2 separate regions of the Homo sapiens genome follow, and region 2 is linked to region 1. The links come from fine-mapping of genetic effects on gene expression. A gene starts in region 1. The other region holds a variant in brackets. All regions are shown on one strand. Distances are between the middles of the regions.

Region 1 (3,008 bases):
CCAATGGAGGTCTCATTCCCCACTAAAGAACCCCCCTACAGAGGCATCCAACTTCTCCGTGTGCCTTGAAGGTTGTTCTGCTGTCCCTGAAATACCTTCTTGTCCTTTCATATCCTGGGAGTCCCAGCTCAAATGTCTGCTCTCCCAGGAAGCGTTGGGGATCTGGAATCAGACTGTCTGGGTGCAAAAAGTTCCAACACTTCCTAGCGTTTTCGACCTCATCTATCAGTTTCTCAAAAAGTGAGTAAGGGTCAGGGCTTAGGTGGGTCTGGATCTGACTTATCTCTGGGTCTCAGAATTGCCCAGGACGGGGTCCAGCCATGGGAAGTCCCAGGAGACATAACGAAGGGAAAGCCGGGAGCAGTGACGAAGTGGGTGAGTAGGCTGTCAGGCCCTGTCCTCTGGCACCAGAGGAAATGCCATTTCCCTTCAAGCAACTCGAATCCACATCTTGCACCCTGGCAGGGATCTCCCAAGAAGCAAAGGGAGAGAGGGGTCAGCCGTCCCCACGACCGTGCGTCTTATGCTCCCTGCTCTTTTTCCTTGAATGGGCATCCTCTGCCCATTTCACAGAGAGGAGCAAAAGGAGAGGCAGAGTACCCAAGCCTAAACAGGGTCACACATGCCCCACGAGTAGGTCTGGGATTGTACGCAGGTCCCTCAAATGACTTACAACAGCACGGACCTAGAAAAAAAGCGAGTGGAGAAGGGCAAAGCGGGTGGAGCCTACCTTCTTGGAGAAGAGGATTTGGGTGGAATCTCCAGCCTCCTCTACAGGAGCCCAGTGCAGGAGGACGTCATTGTCCTAGGGTAAGGAGGGAGGCGGGGTTAGAGGCGCTCCCCAAACCACATTCCCAAAACTTTCCGTTGCAAATTTCCAAACTTTCCCAGTTTCTACCCTCAGCCTTTCAAAGTCCCGCCCCTCATTCCAGTTCCCACACCCAGCCTTCTTCAGGTCCCACTGCTGACCGCCAGACCAAACTCCTACAGCTGCCGCCTGCATCCCAGACCGCCTGCATCCCGCTCGGAGCGGGTCCGAGCCCTGCTCCCTCCCAGCGCACCTTTTCCACGACACGGATGACACCAGCGATGAGAGAGTCTCGGTCCTGATACTTCTTAGCGCTGGTGTGCAGGTACACTCCGCCCTTCTCAAACACCACCTGAGTTGGGGGGAACCAGCGAGGGCTGGGGCCCAAGCGAGGGGACCAGCCTGGGGAGCCAATAGGGACGGGCCCAGGGAGGAGCCACCCTCAGGGGGCGGGGCCGGGAGGGCCATTGCCCCGGGACCAAGGCGGGGAGAATGGTCCAGCCCGCGTTCGGATGCTGACGTGCGTTCCACAGGGGGCAGGGCTCAAGGAGTCGCCTGAGCCGGGGGGGCGGGGCCATGGGAGGTTCTTCCCTGGGGCGGTGGACGGGAGGGTGACGGCGCGTTTATAAGAGATCGGTGTTTGCCAAGGCCGTGCCGGATTCTCGAGAGCCAAGGCCTGAGAGAAGAGCTGATCACTAGACGGGGCGTTTCGCATACACTGAAGCGAGGGAATGCGTCCTCAGTGCTTACCCTGTAGCCGGCTCCTTCCATAGTCGCCGCCGAAGGCCCCACTGCCCCGCCTCCTCCTTTTCCTAGTCAGCGTGTTGTCACTTCCGGAGAAAACAGTTCCCCTCCGGGCCGGACAGTGGTAGCGGCCCGACCCGTTCTAGAGAAGGAGCGGGTGAAACCATTTTTCAGAAGGGGGTTATTCCACTGGAACCTCGAGGGTGGATCGGAGTCACGTGGCGCAGACGCTGAAGGTGGATCCGGCTACGGAGAGTGCGCAGGCGCAGTGTTCGCCCTCTCGCCACGAAGTAAACAAGTGGGAGGGTCTGAGAGCTGCACCACCTGGGGCAAGCACGCCTTGAAACGCCCACTTCCTTCTCCATATTGTATACTGGAATTGAAGCCAAGGAGGTACCATTTTGCTCGAGGGCATGGCCTAAGCCGGTCAGCTAAGGCCATGTTAATACGGGGCTGTCCCATCTCTCTGCGGGGCGCGACAGCTGGAAGAGCCGAACGGATAAGAGAAGAGGAGGTGAGAGGAGCTGTACACCACAAGAGGCACTGAGGGACTCAGGATAACGGGATGAAGCCGTCAGTGCCCCCAGAAACGAAGCGGCCCCGGACGAATTTCTGAGTCACCGTCGCGAGAAAGCGGGCTGAGCCGCCATTTTGAAGCCTGGCAAACCGAAGCAAGAAATGCTGCCGTGTTGGATCTTTGCCAGCCTTCGTGCCGAATGGGAGCAGGTTGGAGGGAGGGAGAGCCAATATACACTATGGGCTGATTAAGCCCGGTTGGCTGCCATGTTGTTAACGAGCACCGATTTCCTCTACTTTTGTCGAAGAAGTTTATTGTGGGTCAGGGACGTCAGGTCGCTTGCCTTCGTTTACTGTGGTCATGATTGAGCATATGAGGACGGCCATTATTGTTGGGGGCAAATGGAAATGCTCTAGGCGGGGCCATTTTTCTTAGGGGCAAGCTGTCGTCACCCTTGTCAACTGGTTCGGATGAAGCCCCTGTGGCCGCCATCTTGATCTCGGGCGGCCCCGATAAGGGAGGCGGAGTGTGCGGAGAGGAGGCGGGGCAACTGCGCGGACGTGACGCAAGGCGCCGCCATGTCTTTTGAGGGCGGTGACGGCGCCGGGCCGGCCATGCTGGCTACGGGCACGTGAGTGGAGGCGGCGTTGTTAACCGCGGTGTGGGGAGGATTTGGCCGTCCTGAGGCAGCGGGGCGCTGGGAGGGCGAGCGGCTCACGGGAGGGGTATGGCCTGCACAGATCAGAGGGCAGAGGTCTGCCAGCGATCCTTTGCTGAGCGCTGGAAGGGGGTCGCCCGTGGGAATCGTCCTGTCAGACCTGAGGCAAATCGTAGACAGTCTCACCTTGCGGTTCCAGAGCGCCTGGGATCTCTACCTGGGCCGTGGACCACGTCCACGGGGTCGGGGGATGGTTTGGGGGGCCTCGGGGCGCCCCTCAC
Region 2 (2,714 bases), 20 kb before region 1:
AGGGGCCGGGGACCTGGGGCCCACCCGACCTGGTGAGGAATGCCAGCACTGCCATTCCCCACTGTGGGACCCAGGTCGAGGCACAGGCGAATAAGGCCCCAATCCCGCCGCGTTCATACTTGACATGTCGCTGTGAATGAAACTCTGAGACCTAGGCCAAGCCTTTTCCCCTCTCTGTGCCCCAGGGTCCTCCTGTCCCACCCTCTCGCCATCTCCAAGCCTCAGTTTCCTCAACTATCAAATGCAGGCATTGTTGTTGGTTTTTTGTTTGTTTGTTTGTTTGTTTTTGAGACGGAGTCTCACTCTGTCCCCCAGGCTGGAGTGCAGCGGTGCAATCTCGGCTCACTGCAACCTCTGCCTCCCGGGTTCAAGCGATTCTCCTGCCTCAGTGTCCCGAGTAGTTGGGATTACAGGTGTGCACCACCACGCCTGGCTAATTTTTTATATTTTTGGTAGAGACAGGGTTTCATCATTTTGGCCAGGTTGGTCTTGAACTCCTGACCTCAAGTGATCCGCCCACCTCAGCCTCCCAAAGTGCTGGGATTACAGGCGTAAGCCACTGTGCCTGGCCTCAAATGCAGGCATTGTGAGGCTTACGATGGGTGCAAAGCCCTGAGCACCAGGCGGCCTCCAAGGCAGGTGATCGCCATGGGAACATTTTTGTCACTATTTTTTTCTTTTTTAGAGAAAGGGTTTCGCCATCTTGGCCAGGCTGGTCTCGAGCCCCTGGGCTCAAGCAATCCTCCCACCTCGGCCTCCCAAAGTGCTAGGATTACAGCAGTGAGCCTCCGCACCCGGCCCTCATTACTATTTTTTATTTTTATTTTTTATTTTTTGAGATGGAGTCTGGCTCTGTCACCCAGGCTAGAGTGCAGTGGCACGATCTCAGCTCACTGCAACCTCCACCTCTTGGGTTCAAGCAATTCTCCTGTCCCAGCCTCCTGAGTAGTTGGGA[C/T]TACAGGCGTATGCCACCATGCCCGGCTAATTTTTATATTTTTAGTAGAGACGAGGTTTTGCCATGTTGGCCAGGCTGGTCTTGAACTCCTGACATCAGGTGATCCGCCTGCCTCGACCTCCCAAAGTGCTGGGATTATAGGCGTGAGCCACCCCTGGCCCTCGTCACTATTTTTGCTGACCCAAGCTCTTTCGGTCCCTGAACTCTCCAGCTCTTTGATCATTTCCCTTTGCCACGGCCTCCCGCCCCTGCGTCACATGCCTTGTTACTCACATTCACCCCCCAGCCCCTCCCGGCCATAACCGCATCCCTCTTTGATTTACTGCGGGAGTTTCCCATCTTCCTTCTTGTTAATGCCCTCCAACCCCCACCCAACCCTTGCTGCAGAGAATCTGCCTCCCTCTGGTTTTCCTCCTCACGGAGCCCCTGGCTCCCTCTCCCCCACCCCAAGGAAAGTCCCTGCTATTGTTTCTCCACCCCCACCCACTCCAAGGTGCCGCCCCACTCCCTGCCCTGAGCACTGAGGTGGTTCTTAAAGCAGGGATGGGTGAAGCCTGGGCGCTTCCCTCTGCCGGGTGGTCACTCATAGAACCCCTGAGTGCCCCTGCGGCCACAGCAGCTGGCATTTCCAAAGGAGCAGCTTCCAGTACTACCCCAGGTTCCGGCCACAGAACTTAACCTGGATTCACTCACTTGATCCTAAAACACTGTGACGTCTGTAGACGTCATTTGACAGCTGTAGACGAGAGCCACAGAGGGGAGGGCGGGCTCAGAGCCCACGTCCTGACCCCGGGACCACGGCTGCCAGCCCCACTGCTACACCCATGTAACGGAGGGGGAGACTGAGGCTCTGGGTGGCAAGTGGAGAGGGAAGTGGAACCATGGGGGGCCCTGCAGGACATGGCGACACCTGACGGAGAGGGACTTGGAGGGGAAAGTTGGCCTGGCCCAGGGACCTGTAGCCCCTCTGTCCCCGTGGGAATCAAGGAGGCAGAGAGAGTGCAGGGGAGGATAGAAACAAGTGGCCTGGTGATCAGGGACGGGGGCAAACCGAAGGGGATTCCCCGTTGTTGGCACGGTTACCTGAGCATCTATTTCTGGCCTCCAAACCACCCCAGAACTATCTGGGGCAAAAGGAAGTGAATAGACTGATTAACTTCCTCCAACCCCCTTTCTCCAACCTCAACTAGACTCTGAGCATTGGACCAGAGCAGCTCCAGGAAACCAGTTTCATTTCCCTCGGCCAGTTTCCCAAAAGGAGGGGTGGGCGGGGCTCTGCCAGTTTAAGGGGAGAGAAAGGGCCACAGCAGAGACAGTGGAGGGCAGTGGAGAGGACCGCGCTGTCCTGCTGTCACCAAGAGCTGGAGGTAGTGACACGGCCAGTGGTGGGGGGACAGAGAGACAGGACCCACAGAAATAGGGACTGAGAAGCAGTCAGGAGCTGGGGAGATGAGGAAGAGGGAAAAGAGGCCGGGCGCGGGGGCTCATGCCTGGAATCCCAGCACTTTGGGAGGCCGAGGTGGGTGGATCACCTAAGGTCAGGAGTTCGAGACCAGCCTGGCCAACATGGCGAAACCCCGTCTCTACTAAAAATACAAAAATTAGCCAGGTTTGGTTATGGGTGTCTGTAATCCCAGTTACTTGGGAGGCTGAAGTGGGAGGATTCTTGAACCTGGGAGGCGGAGGTTGCAGTGAGCCAAGATCTTACCACTGCACTCCAGCCTGGATGGCAGAGAAAGACTGTTAAAAAAAAAAGAAA

The links.
Region 2: its variant is fine-mapped to the expression of TBC1D17 in monocytes (Quach 2016, PIP 0.95).

Annotation. Positions count from the first base shown.
Region 1 is chr19:49,876,295-49,879,302 of GRCh38, reverse strand. It overlaps TBC1D17 (TBC1 domain family member 17), which reads right to left and starts at 1,601. Exons shown (of 17, transcript NM_024682.3): 1 at 1,559-1,601; 2 at 1,062-1,160; 3 at 731-805. The coding sequence starts at 1,579. It overlaps AKT1S1 (AKT1 substrate 1), which reads left to right and starts at 1,948. Exons shown (of 5, transcript NM_001098633.4): 1 at 1,948-2,066. RefSeq lists a silencer at 1,115-1,404 and enhancers at 448-1,407, 1,625-1,964, 2,145-2,784, 2,368-3,008.
Region 2 is chr19:49,896,443-49,899,156 of GRCh38, reverse strand. IL4I1 (interleukin 4 induced 1) reads left to right here and starts at 2,270. Exons shown (of 8, transcript NM_152899.2): 1 at 2,270-2,322. RefSeq lists an enhancer at 1,161-1,340. The variant C/T (reference allele first, on the strand shown) is at 956.